Regions from separate parts of the Homo sapiens genome. Here regions 2, 3, 4, 5, 6 and 7 are each linked to region 1. The links come from fine-mapping of genetic effects on gene expression. A gene starts in region 1. Each other region holds a variant in brackets. All regions are shown on one strand. Distances are from middle to middle.

Region 1 (4,168 bases):
CACCTCCACTCAGATGTCTCCAGGGCATCTCAGGCTTAACAAAACTGAATCAGAATTCTTGATTTTCCCAACAATACCTCACCTTTCCCAGACTCCCTGTTTCAATGAATGGCACCTGATATACCTGTAGCTCAAGTTTGGAACCTGAGGGTCAGGTGTGGTCCTCCTTTCCCCTTCCCTTTCATATGCACCCCACCAGGAACTTCTGCAGAGCATGAACCCACCCCCAAAATATATTTCAAGTCCATCTACTTCTTCCCACCTCCCTCTCTCCTCTAGCCAAGCATCCCTTCTCTCTGGGTGAAGGCAGCAGCCTTCTGTGTGCCCTCCCTGTCTTTTCTCTCACTCCTTTCCAGGGAATCTGCACCTGTGACCACAGCCTTCTGTAACAAATGTACCTGTGACCATCCTAAGACCTGTGGGGGCACAGAAAAGGAAGCCCATAGCTACCCCTGCTGGCTTTTGGTGTCCATTTGCATGAAGTGTCTTTTTCCACCCCTTTACTTTAAGTTTACATGAGTCCTTATGTGTCAGGTGAGTCTCCTGAAGGCAGCAGATAGTTAGTTGGTGAGTTCTTATCCATTCTGCAGTTCTGTATCTTTTAAGTGCAGCATTTAGGCCATTTACATTCAGTGTTAATATTGAAATGTGAGGTACCATTGCATTCATCGGGCTCTTTGTTGCCTGTGTACTTCTTTGTTTGTTTTTTGCTTTTGTTTTTTAACTTGTATTTTTGTTTTATAGGTCCTGTGTGATTTATGCTTTAAAGAGGTTCTGTTTTGATGTGTTTCCAGGATTTGTTTCAAGATTTAGAACTCCTTTTACCAGTTCTTGTAGTGGTGGCTTGGTAATGACGAATTCTCTCAGGATTTGTTTGTCTGAAAATGACTGTATCTTTCCTTCATATATGGTGCTTAGTTTCACTGGATACAAAATTCTTGGCTGATAATTGGTTTGTTGAGGAGCCGGAAGACAGGGCCCCAATCCCTTCCAGCTTGTAGGTTTTCTGCTGAGAAATCTGCTGTTCATCTGATTGGTTTTCCTTTACAGGTTACCTGGTTCTTCTGTCTCACAGCTCTTAAGATTCTTTCCTTTGTCTCAACTCTGGATAACCTGATGACAATGTGCTGAGGCAAAGATCTTTTTACAATGAATTTCCCATGTGTTCTTTGTACTTCTTGTATTTGGATGTCTAGGTCTCTAGATGGCTGCAGAAGTTTTCCTTGATTCTTCCCCCAAATATGTTTTCCAAGCTTTTAGAATTCTCTTCTTCCTCAGGAACACCAATTATTCTTAGGTTTGGTCATTTAACATAATCCCAGACTTCTTGGAGGCTTTGTTCATATTTTCTTATTCTTTTTTCTTTGTCTTTGTTGAATTGGGTTAATTTGAAGACCTTGTCTTTGAGCTCTGATTTTCTTTCTTCTACTTGTTCAATTCTATTGCTGAGACTTTCCAGAGCATTTCACATTTCTAAAAGTGTGTCCAAAGTTTCCTGAATTTTCAATTATTTTTTCTTTAAGCTATTTCATTGAATATTTCTCCCATTCAATATTGGGGGATTGTGTTGGGAGAGGAGGGTCTCCCTTTCCCACTTCCGCAAATGGGGCACTCACAGTATTTGGAGTGTCTTCTGGGTCCTGCAGGAGCAGTCTGGTTCCTTCAGAGAGTCTGTGGGTCCTTTTGGGATTGCTGGTTTTTTCTTGCAGTTGATCTGGAGCTAAAATTCACCATGGAAGCCTCCAGATGCTGCTCTGTCTGAAGCTGCAATCTAGTCCTGCCACCCAGCCACTATGATCCCCTCCATCTCTCTGTCCACTTTAGTCAGATAAGCTCAAAGCTAGAACAAAGGACCCATATATGAGCCTACGGATCTGCCTTCAAACACTTGAGAAGCCCTCCAACTCACCATGAGAACACTGACCCCAATCGGGATCTTTGCTTTGCTCCAACAGCCAGACACTCAGACAGGTCCTCAGACCCAGCAACTAATGGACTTGGTGGGATGGTTGTCCTCAAAGCAGCCAGCATTTTGATCAGGCTGGCGTCTGGTCCTGTATTTTTCTGGGATATTCAGAATCTCTTGACATGTATCTTCACTTAATTGTGAATTTAAAAAATTATAGATGGATGTAGATATAGATATAGATATAGACATAGAGATAGATATAGATAGACATTTTGGAGAAGAGTCTCTCTTTGAAGACTTCCTCTCAGAGTACAAGTCCGTGGTTACAACCATTTTGTTTCTCAGCAAACATGGGGAAGTTTGCTTTTCTTCTCTGAGGAAGTTAATATAAATGTTTATTGACAGTGCAGTCATCAAGGAATAAAGTTGCTGATTCATTCCTTTACACTGAAACCCTTTGTTGTGCCCTCCTCTTCCTTCCTCTTTATAGGGAGACACTCTGAGAAAGAGCACATTGTGGGGGCCCACTCCATGTGATGTTTGCTTGGTTGCCTGTTCCCTTTTCTACCTGCAGAGCACGGTTCCCATAAGGGCGGCGAGATCAGCCTCCTGTCTCATCTGGAAGACCACCACTCTGGGGTCTCAGAGGAATGATGGAAGCCTTGGGGTTTCTAAAATTGGAAGTGAATGGCCCCATGGTGACGGTGGCCCTGTCAGTGGCTCTCTTGGCCCTCCTGAAATGGTAAGTGCAGCCAGCCCTAGGGACTGTGACAGCGTCAGCCGTCTCACCCTGGAGCCTTGCTGGTGCCATGGCGGGGTATGTGGGAGTGTGTTTTTCTTCTTTTCTAATCTAGCGGGAGTGAGTATTAACACAGCTTCAGAATTAAAAGCAAACAGCCAGGTTAATCTTTTGCTAAAATGCATGAGATTGAAGTGTCAGGAAAGGCTGGTGATTCAGTGACTGAGAACGCTACACATAATTAAGTTTGAAAGAGATGGAAAAAGAAACAAATTGGAAAGGCATTAGGTTTGGGTAGAAGCATTTCCTTGAACCCCGTCATATCTCCTCACCTCATTTTTCTAAAATCCTCTGTCCTTGTTGGATTTACAGTGAATTCAGCCTCTTGGTTCATATTACATTCAAAACAAAACAAGACGTAGGAGCTGTTTGGCAAATGTGGGCCTCTTTGCAGGAAGTCATTGAGGGGGATTTCTGTAGGGTTAAGGACAAAGTGGTAGATCTAATTTCTCATAGTTGATAGAGGGAGATGGATTCTGATGAACATAGTGTGTGCAGCTCCTACAAAATTTGAGACCCTGAAAGGATCTCAAACTTGAACTCCGAGTTGCTCCCCTGTGGTTTTGTTAATTCAACAGCAAATTTTCCTAAGGCTGACTCTGGTGTCTGTAGGTCGAAGGCCTCATAATATGCTACATTTATGCATATTCGCCCTGTCAGTTAAACTTATTAGAGTTACCCATTCAATCAAAAGCACCTGGATTTAGATGGCTCTGGCTTTTGAGGGCAAAGTGAGTGGAAAAAATAATGGAGGACTGGAGTCCGAACAGAATTTTAATTTATGTTTTCAGTAGTAATAAAGCCTTCTCTAGATTAATAACTGGGAAAGCACTTTGAAAAGCATCAAGCATTATGCAAATGTGAGGTATTATTCTTTTGGAATTTGCATAGCTGAGAGTGGAATTCACGTTTGATGTTCTATGATGATGAAATTACTTCTTGGAAATTGGCTCTGAAACCCAGCCTCAGTCCCAGTGCTGTTTTTCTTTTTAACTGGTTTAATTTTTTTTTTGAACTTTTTTATCTCATTGTAGCTTACCTTGGATTGAAACTGGCCACATGTAAAACCAAGAGCAAATGGTAGCTCCTTCCCTACCCCCAGCCCCCAATAATCCATCTCAATGTGTTTTTATGCTCCGGGAAGCCCGAAGCACAGTGTCTGACATGCAGAAAGTGCTTAGTCGATGTCAGCCACTATAATTAACCATCTATCATCTATGTAACCTAAAAGAAAATAAGTCTTTAGTGGTTTAGGTTTATTTTTAATTTCTTACTAATGTGCTTATTCATATTAATCTCATCAATAGCTATGCTCTGACTGTGGTTCTCAAAGCGGACACTTTTTTACACTTTTGTTTCAGTCTTTGTTGTGTCTGAGCCTCCAGCTCAGTGCCTGCCATGTAGGAACACCACACCATTCAGCAGGGCAGCTATGTGTTTGCTGTCTATTCTTGGGCCAT
Region 2 (4,168 bases), 140 kb after region 1:
TTCATTGTGTTCTCATGTAATTTTGAAAAGGATGAGAAAGGAAAAAAACCAACTTCTTTTCATATAAATTGTGTCTTCTATAGCTTTAGTGTTCTATGTTGAAATTATTGACTTTTGATCTGGCTAAACCATTCTCTTTTCTTCTCTTTGGTGCTGGACTCTGCCAGCCAAAATTTATGACCCATTTTCCTTCTGCTTAATTGTTGTTATAAATCTGCTGTGCAGAACCCAGTTGTAAATTTATCACAGACTGGATTGGATTGATATACAGCCTCTCTTTAGGATAATTTGAACACAGTTATGCCTTAGAAGGAAGGCCAAATTCTTAAAACTTCTCTTGAAGAGCTGCTTTGTAACCATTATAAATATCTAATTAAAATACAACTTACTCTTTCTTTTTCTCTTAAGGATAAAAGAACATTCTGTGCTGGTTATTTCAGCTTATTAGCTCATGCTGCTGTGTGAGCAAGGTTGAGGATTTGTTCCTTGAAGCAGTCAGAGGATCTCCAAGAAAAAAAAGCATATTATGTGCTTACAAAAAAAAAAAAAAAAAAAAAAAAAGCCGTTTTACCCCCAACTAGCTTTTTCATGAATACACATCCTTTGTCACAGGGAAAGGGTTGAGCAGGAAAAAAAGTGAATAGCTTAACACAAATCTATCCTCACTATGGAAAAAAAAAATGTCTTCCCATGTGGATCTCACCCAGGGAGGAGGGCATGGTTGGCTTTGAGATCAAGTAGAAAACTGGAAATGGGTTTTTCCCCATGGGGAAGGTTTCCTCCCCTTTGCCCAGGTCTGCTGGGGTCGGGCTACCCACAGTTGGTGAGGAGTAAGTTCAGGAGTTCCCCATCAATTCAGTCCCCCAGCCACACAGGGGTCAGAGGTGCTGCTGAGTCTCTGCCTTCTGACAGACCCCACAACAGCACAACAGGACAACAGAGCACAAAGCCACAGGGACAAGGGAAGAGGCAAAACAGAGAACGCCTTACAGCCCTAATGTTGAATCTAAAACAAAGAACAGCGTCACTGCAGCGTGAGAAAAGTGGCAACGGGCTGTGGCACCGGCCCTTGGTTAGGGCATCACAAAGTTTAACGTGCACGGGAATCACCTGGGAGTCACTAAATCTGCAGATTTTGATTCAGCAGGTCTGGGACGAGCCTGAGGGTCTGCATTTCTTTTTTGTGATTATTATTTTGTATTTATGAGACGGAGTCTCACTGTCCCCGAGGCTGGAGTGCAGTGGCACGATCTTGGCTCACTGCAGCCTCCATCTCCCAGGATTAAGTGATTCTCCTGCCTCAGCCTCTCGAGTAGCTGGGATTACAGGCTCACGCCACCATGCCCAGCTAATTTTTGTATTTTTAGTAGAGACAGGGTTTCACCATGTTGGACAGGCTAGTCTCGAACTCCTGACCTCAGGTGATCTGCCCGCCTCGGCCTCCCAAAGTGCTGGGATTACAGGCGTGAGCCACCGTGCCCGGCCAAGGGTCTGCATTTCTAACCAGCTCCCAGGTGATGCTGATACAGCCAGTCCATGGCCCACACTATGTACAAGGAGCCAGGTTCTGAACCATACGTACTGTGTCTCTCTCACGTGTGCTGGACATGGCAAGTATGTATTCCTCATGACATTTAATGTGCTCATGTTCTTCAGTGGTTTACCTTTTGCTAATAAATCTCAGTGGTTTCCTGAT[T/C]ATTCCATAATCATGATGGCATTCACTTTATTGAGTGGGAGATGAAGTGATGCAGGAATGAGCCAATCCTAATACATGTTAGAAGTGTATTAATCCTAAATAAAGCCTAAAATCATCTATTTTCTTCAGTAATTGTTTCCATGGTGGGAGGTTAGGGGGAGCTTTTGAGGTGATTTAAAGTCATTTTCAAAGCAGATGAAGACGGCAACCTGAGCTTTCTGTCAGGACATGTGTGTAGACTGGAGACCTATCACATCCAACGGGACCCTCAGGCCAATCCTTTTAAGCAGGGGGCTCCACCCAGCCCCTTAGCTTCCCTACTCCCCTAAGCCCCTTGGTTGTAGACAGTAGCTTCGGGTGCCAGGTGGGAGGCCATGCCAAACAACTATAGCCAAAGAGCATGTCTCTGATGCCATTTCTTTGGTGGCCTAGGACAGAATCTGAGCTATTTCCACTAGAGGAATAGGAGCTTCAGCAGGGGGCCTTGGAAATGTATCCAAGGTACCCACCTCCTGTCCTTCTTTCTGGAAGCATCTGGCCCTGGGAAGTAGCATCCCGACCACTAATATCAGGGCACTAATATCAGGCAAAGGGAGGAAAAGTTGCATCCTGACCACTAATATCAGAAAGGCCCCTCCTCCCAGCCCGTGAAGAGGGGCCTCTCTGGGTGTGTACCTGGAACCCTATCTTGGAAGTTAAGTTTTGTGGTCACTGCTACCAACACACCAACTCCCAGGACACAGGATACTAGGGACTTCTGTGCCCCATCAGTGGACAAGTCACAAGTTCCCAAAGCAGGGTGACCAATCGATCTGGATCAGGTGGCAGGGCCTCGGATCTTAACTGTCCATTTCATTGTTATGCACACAAACTTATCTTAGAGATCCGGCCATCTGCCTGTTCCCGTCCTGGGGATACCTGCGGGAAGGCAGGCTGTGCCTCCCAGAGGTCATCTGGGCTGCAAATGGGTGCCAAGACCTTCCTCTGCCCCTACTCAGGACTCCAGACTCCTCCACATCCCCTGGAGATACTCAAAGCCCATGCCCACAGTAACCCGTAGGGAAACTGACCCGCTCTGCCTGGGAGCTGCTCCCAGGAGCCTCAGCAGTGGCAACCAGGAGCTTAGAGACCGCTGTGCCTCTCCCTGCCCACCCTCTCCCTCTCATCCTGCCCCATTTCTCTGTTGTCTTTCCTCTTTCCTCTCTTCATTGTTCACAGCACTATTTAATCTCCTTCCCCTCTTTCTTCCCTTATTCTTGTTCTGACTCTATTCCCAGGTCCAGAGAGGCCCAGAATCTTCTCTGCTCCTGCTCCACCTCCTGACCCACTGCCCCCTGGGAGCCCCTGGTCATCCCAGAAGCCTGTAAGTGCACACAGCAGCCAAGACCCACATGCCTGCAATGGGGGTGGCACAGGGGAGGCAGGGTGAAGAGCAGGACAGACTTGCAGGTGTTTTTTTCTGGGCTGCCTGGCTTCATCAACTGCAACACTCCAGCACTTTGAATTTTTAGCAATTAATGCCCCAAGTCCCCCTCCCCCTGAGTCCCTGCAGAGCAGAGGGAGGGGCACCTGCAAAGAGAAGTCTCTCCCAGGAATGGGTCACACCAATCAGCATGTATGTGGTGTCTTTCATGTAGCAAATCAGAGTCTTTCATATTCAATAGCTGGGCCTCTAGAGGGACCAAGCTTTGCTAAGCAAATAAGCTTGTGGGGTTGGTTCACATCCATCCAGAAAAGCAAGAATGAAAAATAAACTTGGGAAAGTCAGCTCCACAGGTGAAGCTCAACCTTCTGTGCATCTGCTTGGCATGGAGCTACATTTGCAACTGAATGGCTCATTTATTTAACTATTGCACACATTATGGGCTCTTAAAACATCAAAAGAATGGGTTTTATTCCCAACAATTAGCTCTTGAAATAAAAGAATAAACATACTTTTTTTTTAACTTCCCCAGACTCTGTTGACCAAAGTCGCTTTCACACCAGTGGAGTGGAAGCTCCAAAATGGTATCATCTGGTGGGAATTTAAAGACTTCTTGTCCCCAAAAAACCTTTTCGTCACTAGGCTTAAAATTTTCCATTGGGAGGCCCTGGCTTTGTTTTGACACATGATCCGTTATTAACACACCACTCATTTTGGGAGGGGAATATCATCAAGTCCCAGCCAGGATGTAAACCCCACGACTAGGAAGCCTCGTCCGCTGGGTACCTTGGTAGGTCCCAGGGCCGAGCACAGTGCCTGGCACGTGAGAAATAGGTGTTGAGAAAAGTTATTTCACTCTTCCTTTTCTAACTGGAAACCAACTCCAAGCACAGATTTGAGGGGGGACGAGCAGGGAGGCACAGTAGATAAAGCCTGTGAGTTACTGCGCCCAGCGAGAAAGGGGTCGGTGGAGTCAAAGAGAGAAGGCACTGCGTGGGGAGATGGAGGCAGGTTGAAGGCAACACTTGGAGTCCCTATAGTCCTACAAT
Region 3 (4,168 bases), 160 kb after region 1:
ACAATACAGCTGTTAATTTATGATCATATTAAAACACAAAGTTTTGTAGTTTGAAGCAGTTAAAAGTCTTAATCTTCTGAAAATTTCCCTCTTGTTTGTTATTTGTTTATGAGTTACTTAGGGTTATTAGATAAAATACAGGCTTCTGGTTAAATTTGAATCTCAGATAAACTGTAAATAATTTTTTAGTGTATCTCATGCAATATTTGGGACATACTTATACTAAAAAGTTAATCTTATTGTATATCTGAAATTCACATTTAACTGAATGGTTATATTAATATTTTTATTTGATAAATCAGGCAACTCTGTATTTCATAAGCAGTTTAACCTCTCTCTACTGGCTCTTCTCTGGCAGGGCAGAGGGGTGCTGTTTTATGGAGAAAGGCACTTACTGCTGGGACCTTGATATCTTTAGACTGTGGGGGAGGCTGGCTCTCCTAGGAACACTAACAGAGTCAAAGAGATCAGACAAGAGAGGTGCCAGTGCAAAGGGGGAAACTGAGGCAGGCAGCATGCCTGGGCTTTCTTGACAGTACCAGGGGTATTATAGCCCTGTTTTCCAGATTTTTTGGACTACAATCTCATCATAAGAAATATAATTTATAATTCAACCCAGAACACACATCCCTTATAAATGGAACAAAAAGTTTTAGGAAACATGTCACCTTCTATGTACAATCTGCTCGACATCCTGTTCTAGTTGATTTCATTTCTTTAAATGCCACTCTTAACCCCCTAAATTGAATTCATGGATTGAATTCATGGTCCCCTAAAGGATCACAGCCCACATGTTGAAAAACACTGGGTTAGAGGGTCACAGTTCAGGAAAATGAACGAGGAGGTTTTTTAAAATCTACTTTACAAACGAGGAAATGTATCGGGTTCCTTAAGAGCCTTTCCAGGAAAATTTTTGCTCATTTGTGGCCAAACTCGAAATAAAACTTAGGTCCCCCAACTCCCAACCCTGCGTTTTCTGGTTTCCTTCCACCACTCTTTCTAGTATCCATTTTCCTGGTCTCCAAGTTGTAATACACATTCTGGGATCCACATTTACTTGTTTTATTTTACATAATTATATTACTTGTATACTATTTCCTTATACTTCATATTCTTCTCAAATTTCCATGTTTTATATCATTTCTGATGCAAACTGATTACATCATTGCTTATGGCACATTCTTGACTGATATCAACATTTTAAACCAAATTGTCTTGGTACGCACCCTCTGATCTTTGGCATCTTACTGCCCTGCCCCATCTTCAACCTCGGCTCACTATTTTGGTGCCTCAGGAGGTCTCAACCATGAACCTTCCATGTGCTCTCACTGGGATTGGTGCCATCTGTGACATAAGAAAAACATAGAAACATAAAAACATAAGAAAAACTATTATTTGTTGTGATTTGTTCTCCCTAATCTATGAAGTCGGTAGGGTATCTGTTATAAAGATTCCCTTCTAGAGTCGAGAAAACAGAGGCTCAGAGAGGTTAAGTGTTTTTCTCAGGGTCACACAGCAAATACAGAACTCCAGTCTTCTTGCTGTGTCTCTTACCCTCTGTCATCAGGATGCAGGGGCTGCTGAGCTGAGATGCCTGCAGATGAGTAAACTGGCGGGAAGAAAGACACCAACCCAATAGATCTCCATGTATTTTATATATTTTCTCACCTACTCAGTCTAGATTTTCAAACAACATACAGAACTTTCTGGGATCTTGTCATCATTCAGTGTACTGTCCTCTGGATCCTCTCCAGGAGCCGCCCACTCCGCACACATTTTTTTTTCTAGTTGTCATAAACAAATTTCAAAGAAAGCCATTTTCCCAGAGCCCTTTCTTGTGACTCTACCACAGTTCATCCTGGTTTGCAGAATCCAAACTCAGGGCTTCCTTCCAATATTTTTATTAGTTCAGTAGTCGATCAGTTTGCACAGAGAAGTGGATTGGAGCTCCCCTTCCCTTGGAGCTGCCAGTGGAGAAAGTCTCCTCCAACCCTCAGGCTCAGCACCACTCAGGGCCAGTGAGATGCACAAACAGCATCTTGCAGGTACCACAATGCCTTCATCA[C/G]TTGTATCTTCCCCGACCCTGTGATGAAGTAGGATGAAGATGGCTGAGGGTATGGACGTTGGGCCCACCTCCCTGGCTTAAAGCTGCTGGACCCCTTACCCGGCCATGTGGCCCTGGGGCATGACACAGTTCCCCCTAAGCCTCGCTTCTTCACTGTTTAAAGGGGATAATAATAGCATCTGCTCTGTTAGACTGAGGGCTGGTTAAGTGGAATAACATACTTAGCACATAGCCTGGTACCCACTTATTTTTTTTATTTTGCTACTTTGTTTCAAATCTTCAAATCTTCCTATTATTCCTTTTTTACAGAGCCATGTCAGAAACCTTAGATTCACGTCCCTTCCATGTGTCCCTTCCACATGTCCCTCCTTGACCTGCCACAATGCCTCTGCTCCACCCAGAGCCTCAGCACCTGCGTTCTGCCCCCTCAGTAACCAGGGTCCCTCACCTGCCACTCCTGGGTTGCTCTCTCCTTTTGAACTAGAAATTTTTCTACCCTCCTGCCCCTCCAGCCAAAATTACCTTTTTGATGTCCCATTTCCCCAGGACACTATTTTGTCCTAGGGATCAAAAATAAAAAAATAAGAAAGAAAGAGAGAGAGAGAGAGAGAGAGAGAGAGAAAGAAAGAAAGGGAAGGGGGAAAGAAAGAAGAAAAGAAGAAGAAAGAAAGAAGAAAGAAAAAGAAAGAGGAAGGAAGGAAAAGAAAGAAAGAAAGAAGAAAAAGAAAAGAAAGAAAGAAAGCAGGAAAGAAAGAAAGAAAAGAAAGAAAGAAAGGGAAGGGGGAAAGAAAGAAAAGAAGAAGAAAGAAAGAGGAAGGAAGGAAGGAAAAGAAAGAAAGAAGAAAGAGAAAGAAAGAAAAGAAAGAAAGCAGCAAAGAAAGAAAGGAAAGAAAGAAAGAAGGAAAGAAAGAAAGAAAGAAAAGAAAAGAAAGAAAGAAAGAAAAGATCAAATTACCAGGATCTGAGGACCTGGGAGGATTTCAGAAATCGCTGGTCAGTCCCAGCAACTAAGGCTCAAATGCCCTCCCCAGGATTCTGCTGGAGATCATTCTGCCAGTCACTCCAGGAGCGAGGGGCTCACCTCTTCCTAAGGCAGGACTTTCCACGAGGCTAGACCAGACCAGTGTCCTCCAATTAATTCATTTCCCTGTGTCTTCCATCCATGGTTTCAAACTCTGGGACCCCAAAGCACAGTGGCCCTTTACAAAGTTGAAGGCTATGTCCCTCTGGCTTCTGCAGCTTTTCCTGATGTGGCAGGGTTTCAGGTCCCCTGCCCATCCACCCCCCACCCCTCTAGCCTGACTGTCTGTGTCCCTCTAGAGGGTGACATGCCTTGAATGGCAGCGAACCCTGGTGTGGGCTGATGGTGTGGAGTACAGAGCGGTAGCCGCTGCCCTGTTATCAGCTGCTTCCAAAGGCCAGGGTGGTCGTTAGTGCATCATTAATAACCCATTATCGGGTTGTCATCTCTGAATTTATCTAAATTTATCTCAATTATTGTAACCCTGTAGACTGATAAGCCCTATAAGTATAAAATACACTGGATGAAAAAGCTACTTCCTATTATTTGTTCTAAAAAATTAACTCCTTCAAGTAATCTAGAGTTTGGTGACCAATTTCTTATTTTACCCTCCTCACATCTTCAAAACTCAGCACTGGTGATTTCACGTCTGTTGATGGGATTCATCTGTCCCCCTCCACTAGACTGGAAGCTCCCCATAAGGTGAGACCCACTATAGCATCCCCCAATGTCCAGCACGGAACTGGAGCATCACAGGTGCCCTGAGGAATGAATGGGTGGACGGCGCTTACAGACTCGGGTGCCACTTCCTCTTGTCCAGCTCCATGCCCTCCCCCATAGTGTGTGGACCATCGGGGGCCTAGAACTGAGGTCCTGGTTGGTAGCACCCAGGAGCCTGTTCCCAACATGGCCCCATGGCAGGGCCTGGTCTCCAGGTGTGGCATGAGGTGCTACATGAGCATTCTGTGAGCATCTTCAGGGAGAAAACAAAGTGTTGGCCAGGCCCACCGGAACAGCGGCCCACCTAAACAGGCTGGCGGGCGGAGGAGTGCCACAGAATGGACATGGGGAGGCCTTACAAG
Region 4 (4,168 bases), 190 kb after region 1:
GAAGACTGGATTGCAAAGAGGTCAATGAGAGACGAGAATCTAAACTAAGGAGATGGCAGTAAAACTGGAGAGATGGCACCATACGAAAGACCAGTGATGAATCTGCAGACGGGGAGAGACGAGTACAGGATGGCTTCTGGTTTCCGGCTTTCTCAAGCCTGTGTGGGAAACAGAAGGAGGAGAAGATTCTGATGACCTGCTGCTGCTCAGGCCGACTTCGAGGATTCTGTGGACCGCCCAGGGAAGAGGCCGGGTCTGTGGGTAGAAATTGGAACCTGGGGTTCAGGCTGGGGCTGAGGTAGGAGGCTTAGGAGATAATGGAAGTTGAATCTGGGAGGGCAGACGAAATCCCTGGGAAGTGCCAGGATTTAAGAGGCTGGTGGATGCAGAAGAGCCTGCCAATGAGGGAGAAATCAAGGAAAGAAATGTGTGTGTGCATGTGTGTGTGTGTCTGAGAGAGAGAGACAGACACACACACAGAGAATGGTAAAGATGATGGACACAGGCCAGGTGCAGTGGCTCATGCCTGTAATCCCAGCACTTTGGGAGGCCGAGGCAGGGGATCACTTGAGGTCAGGAGTTCGAGACCAGCCTGACCAACATGGTGAAACCACCCCCCGTCTCTACTAAAAACACAAAAATTAGCCAGGCCTGTTGACACACACCTGTAGTCTGAGCTACTCGGGAGGCTGAGGCAGGAGAATTGCTTGAACCTGGAAGGCAGAGGTTGCAGTGAGCAGAGATTGTGCCACTCCAGCCTGGGTGACAGAGCAAGACCCTGTCTCAAAAAAAAAGAAGAAGAAGAAAGAAGGAGGAGGAGGAGAAGAAGAAGAGGAGGAGGAGGATGCAGCAAAAAACAGCAGGTGAATCTGGGTAAACGATACATGGGTATCTAATGTACTATTCTTCAACTTTTCTGTAAGTTCAGAATTATTTCCTAATGAAAATTAAAACAGAAAAACAAACAAACCAAAGAAATGTGCAAGAGGAAGACAATCAATGACATAGACAGACCAAGTCAGATGAAGACTGAGGAGTATTCATCAGATGTACCCATAAATATTCTTTGGGGATCTTGGCATGGGGACCATCCACAGGAGGGAGGGGACAGATGCCAGGCAGCAGGGCTAGTCAGTGAAATGGGAGGAGAGGGAGCGAGAGGGTGAGCAAGGGCAATTTTAAGAGGCTTGGCTGTGAATGGGAAGATAGGATAGGCTGTGGCCCAGGAATGACCCTCCAGGCCCCCACTATGAAAGCAATCCTTCCAAAGCAGTTTGCACCCCGACATGGGGCACAAGAGGGGCCCTTTGTGCTTGACAAATGGATGCATGAAGGGATGGATGAGTACATTTTCATCAAGGACCAAGTGAGCCTAGCCTCGGGGCTGCAGGCTCCTGGGCAGTGAGTGGTAATGGGGTAGGGGCTTGGTCACCCTGGGAAGGGGGCTGAGCAGGGGGTCCTCTGTCCCCAGCCTCATTCCACACACCATGCTGCCTGCCCCTGATCCCCTTCACACTCAGACTCTGCCTGCCCAGCACGCCCCAAGCTCTGCTCCTCATCTCTTCTCTGTATCCACCCCCGACCTGGTGTTTCCCTCAGATTCACACGGGAGGCAGCTCAGGACTGCGAGGTGCTGGGGCAGCGCATCCCCGCAGGCGCTGTGCTAGAGATGGCCGTGGGTGCCCTGCACCATGACCCTGAGCACTGGCCAAGCCCGGAGACCTTCAACCCTGAAAGGTGAGTACTGCCCCTTTTAAAAAGCTCTGAAGGGATGTGAGTGTGTGGGATAGAAATTTACCAGTGGAGGCAGCAGCCGGGAGGCACAGACTTAGCAAAATTGTCCCCAAATAGTCAAAAGTTATGGCAATTCAGATAGATGTTTGCAAGACATAATTTCCAAAGGAAATAATTATACCATTTTTTAGCCACGCGTGGTGGCTCATGCCTGTAATCCCAGCACTTTGGGAGGCCAAGGTGGGCAGATCACGAGGTCAGGAGATCGAGACCATCCTGGCTAACACGGTGAAACCCCATCTCTACTAAAAATACAAAAACTTAGCTGGGCGTGGTGGCGGGC[G/A]CCTGTAGTCCCAGCTACTTGGGAGGCTGAGGCAGGAGAATGGCGTGAACCCAGGAGGCGGAGCTTGCAGTGAGCCGAGATGGTGCCACTACACTCCAGCCTGGGTGACAGAGCAAGACTCTGTCTAAAAAAAAATAAATAAATTAAATAAAAATAAATAAATAAATAAATAATTATACCATTTTTTCAAGGTCCAAACTGAATCCAGAGATTTAGCATTTCAGCAGCCCTGCATGCAAGGAACAAGGCAATTTCAAATGATTGTCTTCCATTCATTCAAGCCAGGACATGGGATACAGGATTGTATTTCAGGTCTGCACTGGAAAGTAACGGAACATCATTTCCTTTTTAAAAAACGGGCATCTATGCCAAAACAACAGCTTCAGCTGATGTCTCCATGAATCTAAATTCACGTGATCCACTGGTTGACCTGGGTCCCCGCCTTCCACCACCTGGCTTTGGTTCATTGTCTCCTTTCATTTCTGGGCTCTGTGATTGGAAACATCTGAGCAGGCGGCCCACACTCTGGTCCTCATCAGAACCAGTCAATATCCTGTGTGTGTGATCTGGCAAGGGAAGGGCTGGCCCGGCACCAGTTGTGTTTTCACCTTTCATGGCTCCAACTGAGTTCAGCCCAAGCCTACGACCCAGTCACTGGGAAAACGTGAGCAATGGGATCTACACAACAATATTCCACAGTCAGCAGCTCCTGAACGTGCCGCAGCCACAGGGCTTACAGCCTCACAATAAAGCCCAGGGGTAGTAAAAAGTGAGCTCGCTGTTACAGAACAGTGAGTGCCACCTAGCTTCACTGTCATGGGACACACGCTGCAGGCAAATGCACTACTTGGTAGGAGATTCAGCAGTTCTGAGGAAGGGCCTCCAGCTCTCCAGGTACTGCAGCTTCCAGTGGTTCAAGTGTCCAGTGCAGGGGCCTGCAAAGCAAACACGGGCAGGAGAGGGGCTGCCAGTGTGGCCCAAGAGACCTGCAGGGCAAGCCAGCAGGACACGCCCCCCAGGGAGGGCCCAGGAGGTGCTGAGGTGCCCGGTACCCTGCCAAGGAAGCAGGTGGCGGCTGGGTCATCCTATGGGAGGGGAGGTGGCGCCATGGGCCCAGGTGAGGGTGATCACCAAACCCTGGGGTTCAGGGATGCCGTGTTTAGACTCTGATTGTGGGTGGCGGTGAGTCTGTGGGCTTATTAGCCACACACTGAATTCCTAAGGAGAGGCAGGGAGGGAGCTGTGGACATTCCAGGTGATTCTGCGAATTCAGCTCTGCCTCTGGGGCTGTGCAGGAAGACAGGAGGCCAGGAGCAGAGAGGGACTGAGGCTCAGGAATGAGCAGCCATCAGCTCCCAGAGCCTTGGAGACATCCTTGTCTCAGATGCAGGGGTGGCTCAGCTGGAGCACAGGGCTGCAGAGGGGAGGGAGCGGGTGTTCTGGGCCAGCCCTGACCACACGGACCTGCAGGTTCACGGCTGAGGCCCGGCAGCAGCACCGGCCCTTCACGTACCTGCCCTTCGGGGCCGGCCCACGGAGCTGCCTCGGGGTGCGTCTAGGGCTGCTTGAGGTCAAGTTGACACTGCTCCACGTGCTGCACAAGTTCCGGTTCCAAGCCTGCCCTGAGACCCAGGTGAGGCCCCCCTGCTCAGAGGCAGGGGCAGGGGCAGGGGTGGGAGGGCCACCCCAGTTCTCTGCGTGAGAGCAGGCCAGCCTGGGGGCAACATCAGGCTCTGCCTCCGTGAGCTTGGGCAAGCTCCTTAACCTCTCTCGGCCTCAGTTTCTTGATTCGTAAAGTGGGGGTGATAATAATAACACCCTCTACCTCTCAACATCCTGTGAGGATCCAGTGAGTTCACACAGCGCTCAGGTAAGCCCTGGCAAGCCAACCCGAGCACGTGTTAACCATTGTTATTAGTATTGTTCTCTGCACACCAGGGCTGGACCTCACCTTGCTGTAGCTCTTCCCACTTCCACAAAGGGCACACAGACAATGGCATTTGCAGTTGTGACATGTGCCTGCCTTTGCGGGGTGGGGGGTGCATGGCTTGTCCTACAGAAGGTGGGGACACTTCCTCTGGCTCCTCCTGA
Region 5 (4,168 bases), 58 kb after region 1:
CTGAGGATGAACCAGGAATTGACATTCAGTTCTAAGATTCACAGCATCATGTGAGGCCCAGGACCAGAAGCCAGACCTAATCTCCGATATCAGTCAGGGTGGACAGGTCCATCATGGTTGGAACAGATCCATGCTGGAGAGGCACCGAGTCTCATGATGTGTGGCTGGAGGTTGTTCCTGCTTCTGGGGCCAGGGCTGGGCCTGCAGATGAGGGACAGAGCACCTGGCTAGAAAGGAGAGAGGACTGCAGCGGCTGGAGCGTCAGCCACAGATTTTTAATTTTGCTTTCCTTGATATTCACATCCAAAATCTACCATGGAGAACTGTATATCACGTTCAAGGTGGAAGGGAACTAACTCATTCCTCATTAGTAACTATCAAATATGGCATCAGTACCTTCTTTATCCTGTAAGTGACAGCTCTGCACAGATGTGTTCCCAATCGATAGAATGTCTCAATTAAAGTTGCATAAAAGCTCTATTTTGAGCTAATATCTTCAAATAATAAATTCCACATTTAATTGAAGCGTACCTGCAACAAATCCAAGTTGTTCAACCCAAAATGCATAATAGAGTATGTAAAACAGTCATGAATCACTGTGACATTTGTCAAGGCATTCTCCCATCTGGAAGCAGGTCCAGAAAGCACATGGCTGTATGCATATATCTTTTGTCAAGAACTTTGCACAGACAGTCTCAAAAAGTGCACACATTTACCCAATTCTTAGGGCTCTTCACTCTGATTGAGAATGCAAATAGCATTCCTATTCTATCTAAAAAGAAGAAAGACAAGCCATCTTTGATTTCAAAATTTAAAAGAAATTATTACTAAATTTGAAGAAGCAATGAGTTCCCAATTCACTTAGAGCTTAAAGTTCCTCTTTCATCACTATTTTGTGAGCAGAGGAACTTTTTCCAAACAAGTTCTTAGAAATCCTTGCTTGATTAAAAACCAGTTCTAAATCTTGTTACTCACATAGGGCAAAAGGTAAAGGAATCTAAATGTCTAAAACCAAATTAACTCCAGATACTAGTGTGAACTTTCAAGCAAAAAAAGTCACACACCACCGCATACACGTTTGAAATTCTACTAAATTTTGAATGTTTGACGTTAGCCTTTAAACTGGAACATATTCTTCTTTCTTCCTTAGGATCTTTAAATCTTTTAAAGTTTGGGTTGTTTACTATGCATTCTAATTACTCCTGATCACTCTTATGTGTAACATTTCTATAGCTATGCACACAAAGTAATTCCTTAGCAAGGCCCCACCAAGTTTTATGATGCCTGCTTGCCTAGGGCAGATAATATAAACTTAACTACGAAAATAAGTTCTTTGATTATTCTTCGTATCTCAAGACCGTGCTCCTAACAACCTCTCCTCCATCTCACCCTCAAGCTGCAAGAATTTTGCAACCCACTCTATGAAGTTTTTCCACCCTGAGTAAGGCTGTCAGTTTATTGGCCTATTTATAAAGGTCTGACTCTCTGACATGTTCTCCAGGCTCCCCACATTAACCACTAAGGAGGCACTCTTTGCAGATGAATTTTTTTTTTTTTTTTTTTTTTTTTGGCCTCGGCTTAAAGAGGAACCTATTAACCTTTGCCCGGAATCTATGGCTGGTGAATGGCTTGTCATAGCATGTTAGTTTGATGAGGCAATTGTGGTCTTTTTTGTTAAAACACCCCCCAGCACCTCTTGATACTACTTGGCCTACTGGAGATGTGGGCATCCAGGATTGAATCAAAACTACTGCACTTCACAACAGAGCTACTGCAGGAAGGAAATCCAGGTACTCCCTGGCTTGTGCCACCTCCATCTTTTCCGTGGCTAATGTAATGCCTAGTGCATATTCACCACAAAGAGGCAACTGTTGAATGGCTCTTCCATTTGCCTTTGAAGATTGCTTGTAACTCTTCAAGTTCACTTCTTCATCTCACTGCCAGACCACAGCTTGAGACTGATGATTGACATGGCCACTAGGTTCTTCCCAAAGACTCCAGCCTAAAGATTGTTAGCTGCTTC[C/T]CCCAAAGGCTTAGCCTTCTCTGCTAGAGTTTTGGTTCTTTGGAGCATCCCATGAGCAAGAAGCCTCAGCTCTTTGTCCTCCTCTGTGTAGGAGCCCACAAGGATGCTTTATCTCCAATCTGGAATGGACACTTAGCATCCTGAGTTCTGCCCTGCTCAAAATCCATACCTGTTCATGAGTACCAGGGCTTCAGGGCCCGAGAACCCACAGCTAACACCCATAGGAGAAAGGTTTCATATGAGTAGGTGGGATGGGTTTTCATGCCTCTACAACCTGGCCAGCAGGAGGAACACTGTGACCCATGGTTTCAGAATTGATGGTCTCCCACTTCTCGGTTAGATCTAGGTATTGAGAATAACCTGAAGGACATTTGGCTGGAGGACATTATTTTTATTGTGTTAAAATATGCATCACACAAAATGTACTCTCCTATTTTTCATTGTATAGATCAGTTGCATTAAGTACCTTCACATTGTCGTGCAGCTATCATCATCGTTCACATCCAGAATTTTTTTCATCTTGCAAAGCTGAAACTTTGTCCTCATTAAACATTAACTCTCCCTTCCCTCCTCCCCCAGGCCCTGACAACCACCATTTTACCTTCTGTCTCTACAAATTTGACTACTCTAAGTACCTCAATAAAGTGGAATCATATGGTATTTTTCCTTTTGTAACTGGTTTATTTCACTTAATATAATATCCTCAAGGTTAATCCATGTTGTAGCACATGGGAGAACTACTGCCTTTTTAAGGCTGAGTAATATTCCATTGTAAGCCTATTCTGCCTTTTGTTTATTCGTTTGTTTGTAGATGGCGGAGTGTGTTACTTCCAGCATTGAGCTAATGTGAATAATGTTACTTGAATATGGATGTGGAAATACCTCTTTGAGACCCTGCTTTTAGTTCTTTTGGGTATATATGCAGAGGTGGAATTGCCAGATCACAGAGTAAATCTATTTTTAGCTCTTTGAAGACCGTCATACTGTTTTCCATAGTGACCATACCATTTCACCTTTGGAGGACATCTTATAGCAATGCTTTGTTGTCCCCTTTTCACCACGATTATGTGGCCATTACTTCTTGTTTTCAAACCTTGAGAGTGAGCTCAGGTTAAATTTACACTTCCCTTTGTGCCCTGGATCCCAACTGGTCAAGGTGAACCACACATTTCTAATTGGAATGTATGACCCCAGTGACTTTGCCTGTAACTTCCTTTTGGCTAGGCCAGTAAGCGCATTTTTAACCAAACCGACCCCATTATCAACAAATGCTTGCACTGCACGATAAATTCAGTTTGCTTTAATAAATTCCCAGTAGTCCTCACCCAGAGCTCCTTCTCCTCTTATCTCACTCCTTGCTGCCAAACCCTTTACAATTTATGTGTCTGCCTTTCGGTTCTGCCTTCAGCCCCCTCCAAGTTTCCTCTTTCCCACCAGCTCACTGTGGCCTTTGTGTCTCACATAAATTTTGTCTTCTGTGTCTGAAACTCTTACTGACTTCTGCTTCCTTGTTCCCTGGGTCTACACTGTTCCTTCTCTTCCTGGAACTGACCCTTCGATCTCTGGGCTTCCTACCTTGAGTAATTTGTCAAAATCCTGTTCTTGCAATTGGTGGCTTCTCAATTTTTTTCCTCTGGGTTTTTTTCCCACAGTCTTTCCACTATATCACAGGGCATACACTCCTGCTTCATGACTGTTCATGACATATTGAATTCCCCTCTTGTACCCCACAGTCTCTGCACTGAGTGTGTGCTCATTGGGAAAGGTTAGCTCACATTATACCTATCCAAAAAAGGAGAGGTGGCAGGTGGCCTGTGGAGAAGAGTGTATCCAGGCACATATGCATGGGAGAAAGTTCAGAGGTTTTGGCTGAGATAGAAAGAAGAAGAGTAGAGGCCAAATGTGTGCTAGGAAAATGTGATGTTTGGGGCACAAGTAGAGAGGACAACCTTGGCAGTGGCAGATGAGAGAGAACCTCAGGACTGGTGCTAAGGAGGTGGGTTATTTAAAGAAAGTTGTGCAGGTATAGAGTGGAGAAGGGGTGCAGGGGGAGGATGGAATTGAGTTAAAAAAAAAAACTAGCAAAAAACATTCTGATAGCACAGGTGAGAGAGATAAGAGTGATTTAGATTATCAGAAATGGAA
Region 6 (4,168 bases), 90 kb after region 1:
TCAGGGATGTGTCAAAACACTAAGCCTAGTGCTTTGGAGATGTGGGTTCTGGTCTGGAGTGGCAGTATGGAGTGCCATCTCTCAGGTCCTCATGAGCAACACAGAGGTCACCTCTCCAGGCACAGGTCGAGCCACACCACTGACACACAAGAGTCACGTCCAAAGCCATGTGATGGACGTGGTGGGTGGTTTTATCCCGAACCATCAATACCCGGCACCCTGGCTGCCCCAGGTTCAGCCTCTCAGGGGCTGCTTCACTCGCTCTCCACACAGCTGTGAACATTGCAGGATGAGTCACTGTGAAACCACAAACTCCTTGGCATTGGTGAAGATGACTAAAGTTATAGGCAAATTAGTCACTGGAAACCTTCCTGTCCTCTGTATCTGCAGCAGCCTCCTATCGAAGGAAGAAAAGAGTATGTTGGCTCATTGCAGAGCTAATTGGCAAGGAAAGCTCAATTCAGGGCTACAGGTGAGTCAGACGCCCTTGTGCGGGGGCCACAGGGACCCGCCTGCTGGCATCCATTGAGGAGAGAGGGGCCCTTGGCAGACTTGCCATAAAACCGCCCCCCTTGAACTCATTCCTACACCTGTAACCACTGACAGTTTTTGAAAACTGTTCACCTGGAGTTCCTGGTTCTCTTTCTCTTAAATCAAACATTGAGTAAATGAAGACACTCAGATGTTCAAACATGTGCATCAAGATTTTACTTGTGAGAGTGGTTGCCATGCATGACCTAGGGAAGCTCTCATGGCTTCAGTCAAACCTTGCCAACTTTTTTTAGCTGTGCATTTCTTGAGAAAGGTCAACTCACATTACGGGTCTACAGCTCTGAGCAAGGGAGAAGTTCTTCCTGAAAGCACAAACAGACTACAGAGGGCAGTGAAACCAGAAACACAGGTGTGCAACCTCATTTGCCTGCCCCCGTCTCTATTTTGAGGCCTCTTTGTTTTATGTGACCTCCGTCTCCTTCTCTGCCGCAATCTTCTTCTTATAACACCCACTTTCTTCTTTTAATTTCCCCCTCTTCTAAGCCATAGCCCAGTGGTATGGCGAAAGGTCTTTGCTGTGCATAGGAAACCCTCCAATCTGAACTGGAAGCTTCCTGTTGCAGGATGGGCTGCCCCATTGGAATTCCCAGGTGACAGTCGCAATGGGATGCCTGTCCCCTGCAGGTCTCCCATTTCACCTGCTTTTCTAATGTCTGGACATGGCTAAGTCCTAGAAAAGCCAGATCCATGGCATTACATTTAATCAGTACAACACACTGAGCTTCGTTTCCAACATGGTAGCTAAGTTTTAATTCTAACATCTTTAAAAGTACTGAGTGTCTTGTGATGCCTTGGGAACACAGGAATAGTGTTAAGTGGTGTTGATTCTCAATGCTCAAATGTACTTCTCTCTGCCTTGCAGAGATTTTTCTAAAATTTCAAGACCTTGTTGAAAATGATTTCATATTTTTGTGTCTTACTAGACTCTTGGTTCAGCAGGAAGCTATCTTTATATATTTTTTTAACAAAAAGAAATTAGTAAAAGCTTGCTCTGATATTTATGCCATATTTCCCTAACTTTTGTCGTGGCAGAAGTAGAAATAAGTGTGTAAACCAGGAGATTAATATCTACAATTTAGGCATGAGAATAGAGAAATAAACCATAAAATCAATTCTTATCTCTCAATGGATATATTCCAGAACATTCCATGGAAATCAAGTGACTAAGTCCTGATCCTCCCTGTCTTTCTCCGCCCCAATCTCCTTCTTATGACATTCCCTTTCTTCTTCCCATTTTCCCTCTTCTAAGCCATAGCTCAGTAGTATGGTGAAATGTCTTTGATTTTAGTTTAAAGAAATGAAATCAGATTCCAGATTTGCTACCTCTTATTAGTTGTGTGGCCTTCAGACAATCCTTTAACCTCCTGATTCTCAATTTCCTCCTGTGTAAAATACATTAGACTAGCTAATCCCTAAGGTCTGTTTGGTGCCCAGTTCACGTGACCGTTGGCAGCCACAGGGAGCCACGGAGTCCCACCAGCGTCCCATAGAGCCACTTGGAGCTTCAGGTACAAGGAACAAGCCCCTCTTAGGCCCCCTCAGGAAAATTTATTCTCGCAGCCAAGCATGTCAAGTGCAATATCAGGAACACCCTTGTCCTTCTTGAACACTGCTTCTGGCCAGAAACTCTGCTGAGATCTGTTGGAGAGTTTCCTGCAAAGATAAGAGTTAACAAGCCCCCAGATTCCCTTCCCCGCTCAGGAGGGGCCCTCACTGTCAGCTTTGGGGCTGATAGAAGCACAGTTCCAAGCGCCTGGCTTCCTCCTCCTCCCCAGTGGATAAAATGCTGGAACTCCGTCAGGCAGGACTGCCATAATTAGAAGAGGCCCCTTTCCAGCAGCTGAAGCTGACTAGGCAGATAGAGCCCAAATTTGTTTTTAGCCACCACATGCCCCTGAGCTGACCCCTC[G/A]AGCTGTGGACACATCTCACAACCTCACCCGGAGGCCATTCTCTCAGGCCAGTCACACTCTCCCACAGAGAGAGCGAAGATGATGTCAAATCTATGGCCACCTTCTACCAGCAGAGGGAATGAATGAAAACTGACATGTAGAAGAGTAAGACCACTACTGTTTTCATTTTTGGTATTTTTTTTTTACATTTTAATTTTTTTATACTCTATTTTTAGTAAAAGGGACACCTTTACTATTTCAAACCACCAAAATATAAGCCCTATTTGGTTCAAATCTTTGTACAGCCAGATAGCAATAGATATAAATTGACAATGGCCTCAAGTATAGAATTTGGGGTTATACAAGTGACAGAATTCTTGAGTCTCAGTTGATTATAATATAATGAGGGGACAGTGCCAGGTCTTTCACGTCTCCAGGTGGGAAGGGGACAAGTTGCACGATGGCTGTCCTCATCTGTGCCTGGTTGTGTGAGAATTAGAAACAACGTTTGTAACAGTGGTACCTAGTCTTTGTGACCGTGGTCCTCTTTTTGATATTAATATTTTTGCAGACTAGTTGGCATAAACAAGTTGGCTCTCTGTACTCACATTACAACCACTGAGGTATAACACTATCTCTTGGAGTCCTTAGAAGCACCTCGCTCTGTTCAGCTGGCCTCTCAGCCTTGTGTGGCTGTTTCAGAACTGTTGATCATCTGTCAAGTCATCCCAGAGATCATCTAGATCTTGAGTCCATTTCTTGCATGTTCCAGAACACAAGAAAACATTTGTGGCTATAGCTTCATATTCTATCATGCCTTTCATCCCTTTCTCCCGATAATACATGAACCCGGTTACAGCAGAAATGCATTCCATGCATTTGCAACACTCTGGAAGGAGCCAGTGGTTCTTGTGTGGCTTTACCAGGCCAGTCGAGAATCACTGGGCTGGTGCATGAGAAACCTTCAGTAAGTGGCTGCTGTCTTCATGCACCCATGGAATGCCGAGGTGTTGGTTTTCTTCAATAACCTGCTCCTCAGGGCAGTGTTTCCTAATTGCTGGAGAATGACCCAAGAGTTGATGAAATAATATGAAAAGTACTGTGTTTGCTGTAAGATGGACAAGTATTGGTGATATAGGCCACCCCACTCCCACCCTCCATTCTTTGTCTTGATAGTTCCAGTCCCAGTACAGCACCTGGCACACAGTAGTTGCTCCATCATTATTCACAGCATAATCACAGACACCATTCAGAGCAGAGCTTGTACAGCCCTAAACATAAAGTGCAGCAAACCCAGCTCAAGATCATTGAAGCTAGCAGCCATTCAGCTCCTGCTGTGGGATGGCCAGGGAGGGTCAGAGACTGTGGTCTTGACACATTCTGTGTGGGGTTCATCCACATCTTCCTAAATGCCCAAGGCATGGCTATTTGAAGCAGAGCAAGTAAAGACAACGAGGGGTCCCTCTGCTGGGTTTTCTGTCCCCCTCTGGCTGCCAGCACTAATCTAGCCTTTGAAGAGGGGCAGAAGGGGCAAAGTTAAACCACACTTTCCTCTCTTACCTGTTGTCACCCCTCTAATGACTTTTCACTTTCTCTGCTCACCTTCTCCTTCCTGCCTCTTTTAGAAATGGGAAACAAAGGGCCCATAGGCCCTAAAAGGGGCCACCCTTTGAAGGAGGAGACATGACCACAAATGTCACCCTTTGATATCCTAATGGGATCCATGT
Region 7 (4,168 bases), 110 kb after region 1:
ATAGAGCAACAGAGAACCAGGGAAAATGTGATTCATGCATCTCCAAGTCAGGAAAAAGAGACTATTGGAATCATAGCCAGCGACAAACAAGTTATTGGGATTTATAGAAAAGGATGGCTGAGCATTCCTGGAAAAACAACTGACTTTTTGTTGTTGTTGCTGTTGTTAGGGAAGATTTTGTCTGCTTAACTGGCCAGAGTTTTCACTCCATCCCCCGAAGAATTGACGTTTTAAAAAGCACAACTGTAGATTTAGATTTTCACAGTCTTTTGCTAGATTCTTTACCAAAGACTATTAGTGAGTAGTAACCCTGGGATTGTGTAAAACTTTATTAAGGATGAGGGAATAAATAGGTTTAATTTCAGGAAATAAAACTGGGGCTAAATTAGTACTTCTCTGACGGAAAATGTATAAATAATGTGATCCCCTGGGGACCCAGGTTAGCACTAGATTTATTTTTAAATTTTATAACTCATCTGAAAGAGAGAGAACACAGTGGAATCTATATATTTGTATATTCCTCTAAGCTGTTCTGATTTGAAAGATATTAAATCAATAGGAATAACTTTCTGAGACTCTTGTAAGATTGCATAAGTCAGCACAAAAGTGGCAGGTAACCTTCAGTGTAAGCAAGAATAAAAGAATACATTTAGGAGAAAGGCATCTAAACTGTACTTATATGATGATGAATTTCAAGCTATGAATTACTACCAGGGAAAAGGATTTGAAATATGGAGGACCGAAAAGGCCCCATAGTCAAATAATTTGGTGAAATATTACAAACTATATTCTTCAAGATTCACCATGTACCTGAGCATATGAAAGGCTTGAGAAAGGCCTGCAGTAAAGAAACCTGCTTAACTTTGTTTATTCTGGGCTCAAATAGGTTTTCAAAAGGAGAGAACGTGGGTTGTTAACTTCCTGGTTGGCTACTGAGAGAAATGAGTCTCTTGAGCAATTATCCTTTGCAGGTAGCTTCCATGAAGAACCCAGTTTTTGAGTGCCTCTAGCAGAGACTAAGCTTCAAACCTCATTAACCATGGATCCAATCCAATATGGCAGCTTGTATGTTCTCCATTCTCAAAGCCCAATATAAATGATGGGCTTTCTTCATTCACCCAGATAACTAAGAGCTGATGGTACCCCATTGAGCAGATATGGGAGACAATGAATCTTCATAGATGAGTGCCTAAGGATATATGTGTCACTCAAGAGTAAATGAACCAATCATGTTGCTATGCATAGGGACTCAGTTAAAGAAAAGTCAGATAAAATGGGAGGCTGGTATCTCGCACAGCACTGATCCGGCTCTCTGCCTAATTTTTCACTTTTCATCCAGATGTTCCCCGTCAAGAAGGCACAGTCAATAATGTATGAATCTTAAAGGCAGAGGCAGATGTGGTTATTACTCCCTGTAGGCATTTCCTGACTTGGAGACGACATGTTACTCGAGAATGACTACAATTTTTAAAAATTTAAGTTGATATAGCCCGCTTATGAGTAAATGCATTTCAGTGCAAAAGTCTTTTCAGAATTACAGTCATCATCACAGTTTAGTTTGGCCTTTAAATTTTCACTGTAAACTCTCCAGATGGTCACATATGGGGGCTTCTAAGGCAGAACACGCTTCCCAATAACATTAGAGCAAGCAGCCTTCTCTAGGAGGCATCCATTTCCAGCAGTCTATTTTTAATATTTGCTTTTATTTCTTAATCCTCCTGAACAATAAAAATGAACGTCATTATAACCAAGTGTGGCTGTAGTCATCAATACTTCAGAGTCCAAAAATACATTGGCCTTGCCTGACCAGTTGCCCATTTTCTGGAATAGCTGGGTATTTATCTAGCAGCGAGAGACCATTATCCTGAGACACAGTCGTGTTCCACCGACACCTGATCTACTAATTAAAATCACTATCATGATGGACTGTTTAAATTCTGGTTTAAATGTTCCTTTTGCATTTGCATTTAAAAGAAAACACACTCCTCATCATGGGCACCCCAGCCTGGGTTATAATTTGGCTTTCCTTTGCCAGAATTATAATGTCACTCTGACTTGCCGCTGGTTAAATCTAAAAGAGCATCTAAATGTGCCTCACAGCTTGGCTGTTGCTTGGCAACGCCAGCAGCCACCTCCTCATTGGGGTGACTTCTAATTGGTCACAAGTCTTGACAGGAGCCACTGACTTATTAGAAATGACACTTGATTATTCACCTAGATGGCTAGAGCTGATACTTAGCAGCAGGAAATTTTGCATAAAAAGGAGTCGTGGATGTTTTTAATATCTGGGTGGCTTTTAGCGATGGTGTAGTGGAAGAAGGAAGTGATAAGTTTCATTAGTGGAAATTAATTTTTCATTTGTTGGTCACCAGTTTAGAGCACTTTAAGGCATTAATTTTTTCATTTTAAAAAAAAACCCAGAAATA[C/T]GTTTAAATACCTTCCCCCACCCCCAGCAGCTGACCCTTACTTATTCAGAAAACCCTCCTCTGACATCAGCCCCAAAATATTGCCCCCAGGTCCACCAAGGGCCAAATCAGATGAAATGTTCAATTTATAAAGGTCAACAAATATTTATTAATTAGTTCCTGTTGTTAAGGAGTTTATAATGTAGAAGAGAAACAAGGTACATAAATCACTGCATTATTACCAATCGTGGAAGGTGGTGACAGAGCTGGGGTCCTGCTTTGAGCATCAGAAGCCACTTTGGCAGGGAGGAAGCAGTGAGTAGCACCGGAATTGAGCTCTGAAGATTTTGCTGTTTTGACAGAGGGAGAAGGTGCATTGCAGGTGGAATGAGCTGCAGGAATCAAGGCATCTGGACAGAAAAGTACAGGGTATGTTCAGGGAATAGGGGAGTACAAATTGGCTGGAACACAGAGTACATGTAAGGGATTAGTGAGAAAGAAAGCTGAAAAAGTAGGTTGAGGCACGTACAGTTCACTGTTCTGTGCCGAGAGAGTGTTTGGTGCACACTTCACTAGAGCTCGAGGAGCTATTAAATACTTGAAAGTGAGGGAGTGACCTGCTCAGAACTCTGTGTTAGGAAAAAGGGTTTCATTTCAGCTGTTTAGCCCCCAAGCCAGCCATTTCCCAGACCCATGGGGCAAATCTTTCTGGTGCAGATGAGGGGAACTGTGAATTGTCTGGAGGAGTCTCCTCTTTGTAGTAGCCCCAAGTATGGGCAGGCTCCCAGGGGCCATGTTATGACATCAAGGCAGCGGTGTCCACTGTGGCTCTTTTGAGTCCCTCTTCGTGTGTGGATCAACAAGTCACCCAAGCTACACACCATCAACGTTTGGGGCTTATCTCTGTTTAGATGGATAGGGTTATGTAAAAAAGACCCTCTCCTTCCCTCTCTCTGTGTAGGAAATATGTTTTCCCTAGCACTCAGCATTGTCCAAACTTTCAGGAACTCCAAAGGCTTAAAGATGGTGGGTTTTTTCTTTCTCAAGTTTATGACATAAGATCTGCACAGAATGACCTAGAAGTGAATAAACTAAGGAGCAAAGGAAATGTGGAGGCTGAGTTTTGTGGGAAAGCAACAAGCCAGGAGTCAGGATATCTGGGGTTCCAATTCTCATTTGAACACAAAAATAACCAGATTCTGCCCTTTAGGTCCCTATGTATTCTGAAGTTGATGTGTCAAAGAAATGACAAAAGGCTTTCTTGGGAATGGGATGTGTTGCTGAAAGCACATGGACCAATGATCTGACACTTCCCTGCACTGAGCTAAGAATTTGGCTGCTCTCTCCATGGCTTCAAGCAACTGTCTCAACCTGATGCTTTGTGACCTCCTTGGAATCTTCAAATGTCAGTGGAAAGGGACATTATAGCTCATTGCGATCAGCCCTTCATTTAGGGATGAGGACCCACGTTCAGAGAGATTCAAATGCCAGGTCCAAAGTAACACATAGGACCAGCATGAGTCTCAGCTTTCTTCTTCAGAGCCAGTTTTCAGCAAACCACACTGTATTCATGCTAAGAGACAGTGCCTCAATCTGTTCATGTTTCTTGGGTACCTTCTATGTCAAGGCTCTCAAGGAACATTTGATCAATCAGTCATCACACAGGTATTTCTAGAAAATCAACAGAATGGGGTGTGCTATGCTCATTCTTGATATAACAAATACCAAAAACTTCATTAATCCATGACAACATGCAATAGTTA

The links.
Region 2: its variant is fine-mapped to the expression of TBXAS1 in whole blood (INTERVAL, PIP above 0.99).
Region 3: its variant is fine-mapped to the expression of TBXAS1 in whole blood (TOPMed, PIP above 0.99).
Region 4: its variant is fine-mapped to the expression of TBXAS1 in whole blood (INTERVAL, PIP above 0.99). The same link has a PIP of 0.9 or more in blood mononuclear cells.
Region 5: its variant is fine-mapped to the expression of TBXAS1 in whole blood (TOPMed, PIP above 0.99).
Region 6: its variant is fine-mapped to the expression of TBXAS1 in blood mononuclear cells (TOPMed, PIP above 0.99).
Region 7: its variant is fine-mapped to the expression of TBXAS1 in whole blood (TOPMed, PIP above 0.99).

The regions. Positions count from the first base shown.
Region 1 is chr7:139,826,829-139,830,996 of GRCh38, forward strand. It overlaps TBXAS1 (thromboxane A synthase 1), which reads left to right and starts at 2,436. Exons shown (of 13, transcript NM_001061.7): 1 at 2,436-2,651. The coding sequence starts at 2,563. RefSeq lists an enhancer at 2,109-3,308.
Region 2 is chr7:139,968,922-139,973,089 of GRCh38, forward strand. All of the region lies in intron 9 of TBXAS1 (thromboxane A synthase 1), which reads left to right. Among named protein-coding and RNA genes, the nearest start is that of PARP12, 92 kb to the right of the region's middle. The variant T/C (reference allele first, on the strand shown) is at 1,697.
Region 3 is chr7:139,981,958-139,986,125 of GRCh38, forward strand. The region is part of intron 9 of TBXAS1 (thromboxane A synthase 1); the gene reads left to right. Among named protein-coding and RNA genes, the nearest start is that of PARP12, 79 kb to the right of the region's middle. The variant C/G (reference allele first, on the strand shown) is at 2,066.
Region 4 is chr7:140,014,124-140,018,291 of GRCh38, forward strand. TBXAS1 (thromboxane A synthase 1) reads left to right here. Exons shown (of 13, transcript NM_001061.7): 11 at 1,600-1,737; 12 at 3,548-3,710. Among named protein-coding and RNA genes, the nearest start is that of PARP12, 47 kb to the right of the region's middle. RefSeq lists an enhancer at 2,615-3,115. The variant G/A (reference allele first, on the strand shown) is at 2,078.
Region 5 is chr7:139,884,843-139,889,010 of GRCh38, forward strand. All of the region lies in intron 3 of TBXAS1 (thromboxane A synthase 1), which reads left to right. Among named protein-coding and RNA genes, the nearest start is that of TBXAS1, 58 kb to the left of the region's middle. RefSeq lists a silencer at 3,248-3,542. The variant C/T (reference allele first, on the strand shown) is at 2,024.
Region 6 is chr7:139,916,330-139,920,497 of GRCh38, forward strand. All of the region lies in intron 4 of TBXAS1 (thromboxane A synthase 1), which reads left to right. Among named protein-coding and RNA genes, the nearest start is that of TBXAS1, 89 kb to the left of the region's middle. RefSeq lists enhancers at 1-676, 579-878. The variant G/A (reference allele first, on the strand shown) is at 2,462.
Region 7 is chr7:139,941,470-139,945,637 of GRCh38, forward strand. All of the region lies in intron 5 of TBXAS1 (thromboxane A synthase 1), which reads left to right. It overlaps LOC105375532 (a long non-coding RNA gene), which reads left to right. Exons shown (of 2, transcript XR_928043.3): 1 at 1-2,834; 2 at 3,616-4,168. Among named protein-coding and RNA genes, the nearest start is that of TBXAS1, 110 kb to the left of the region's middle. The variant C/T (reference allele first, on the strand shown) is at 2,427.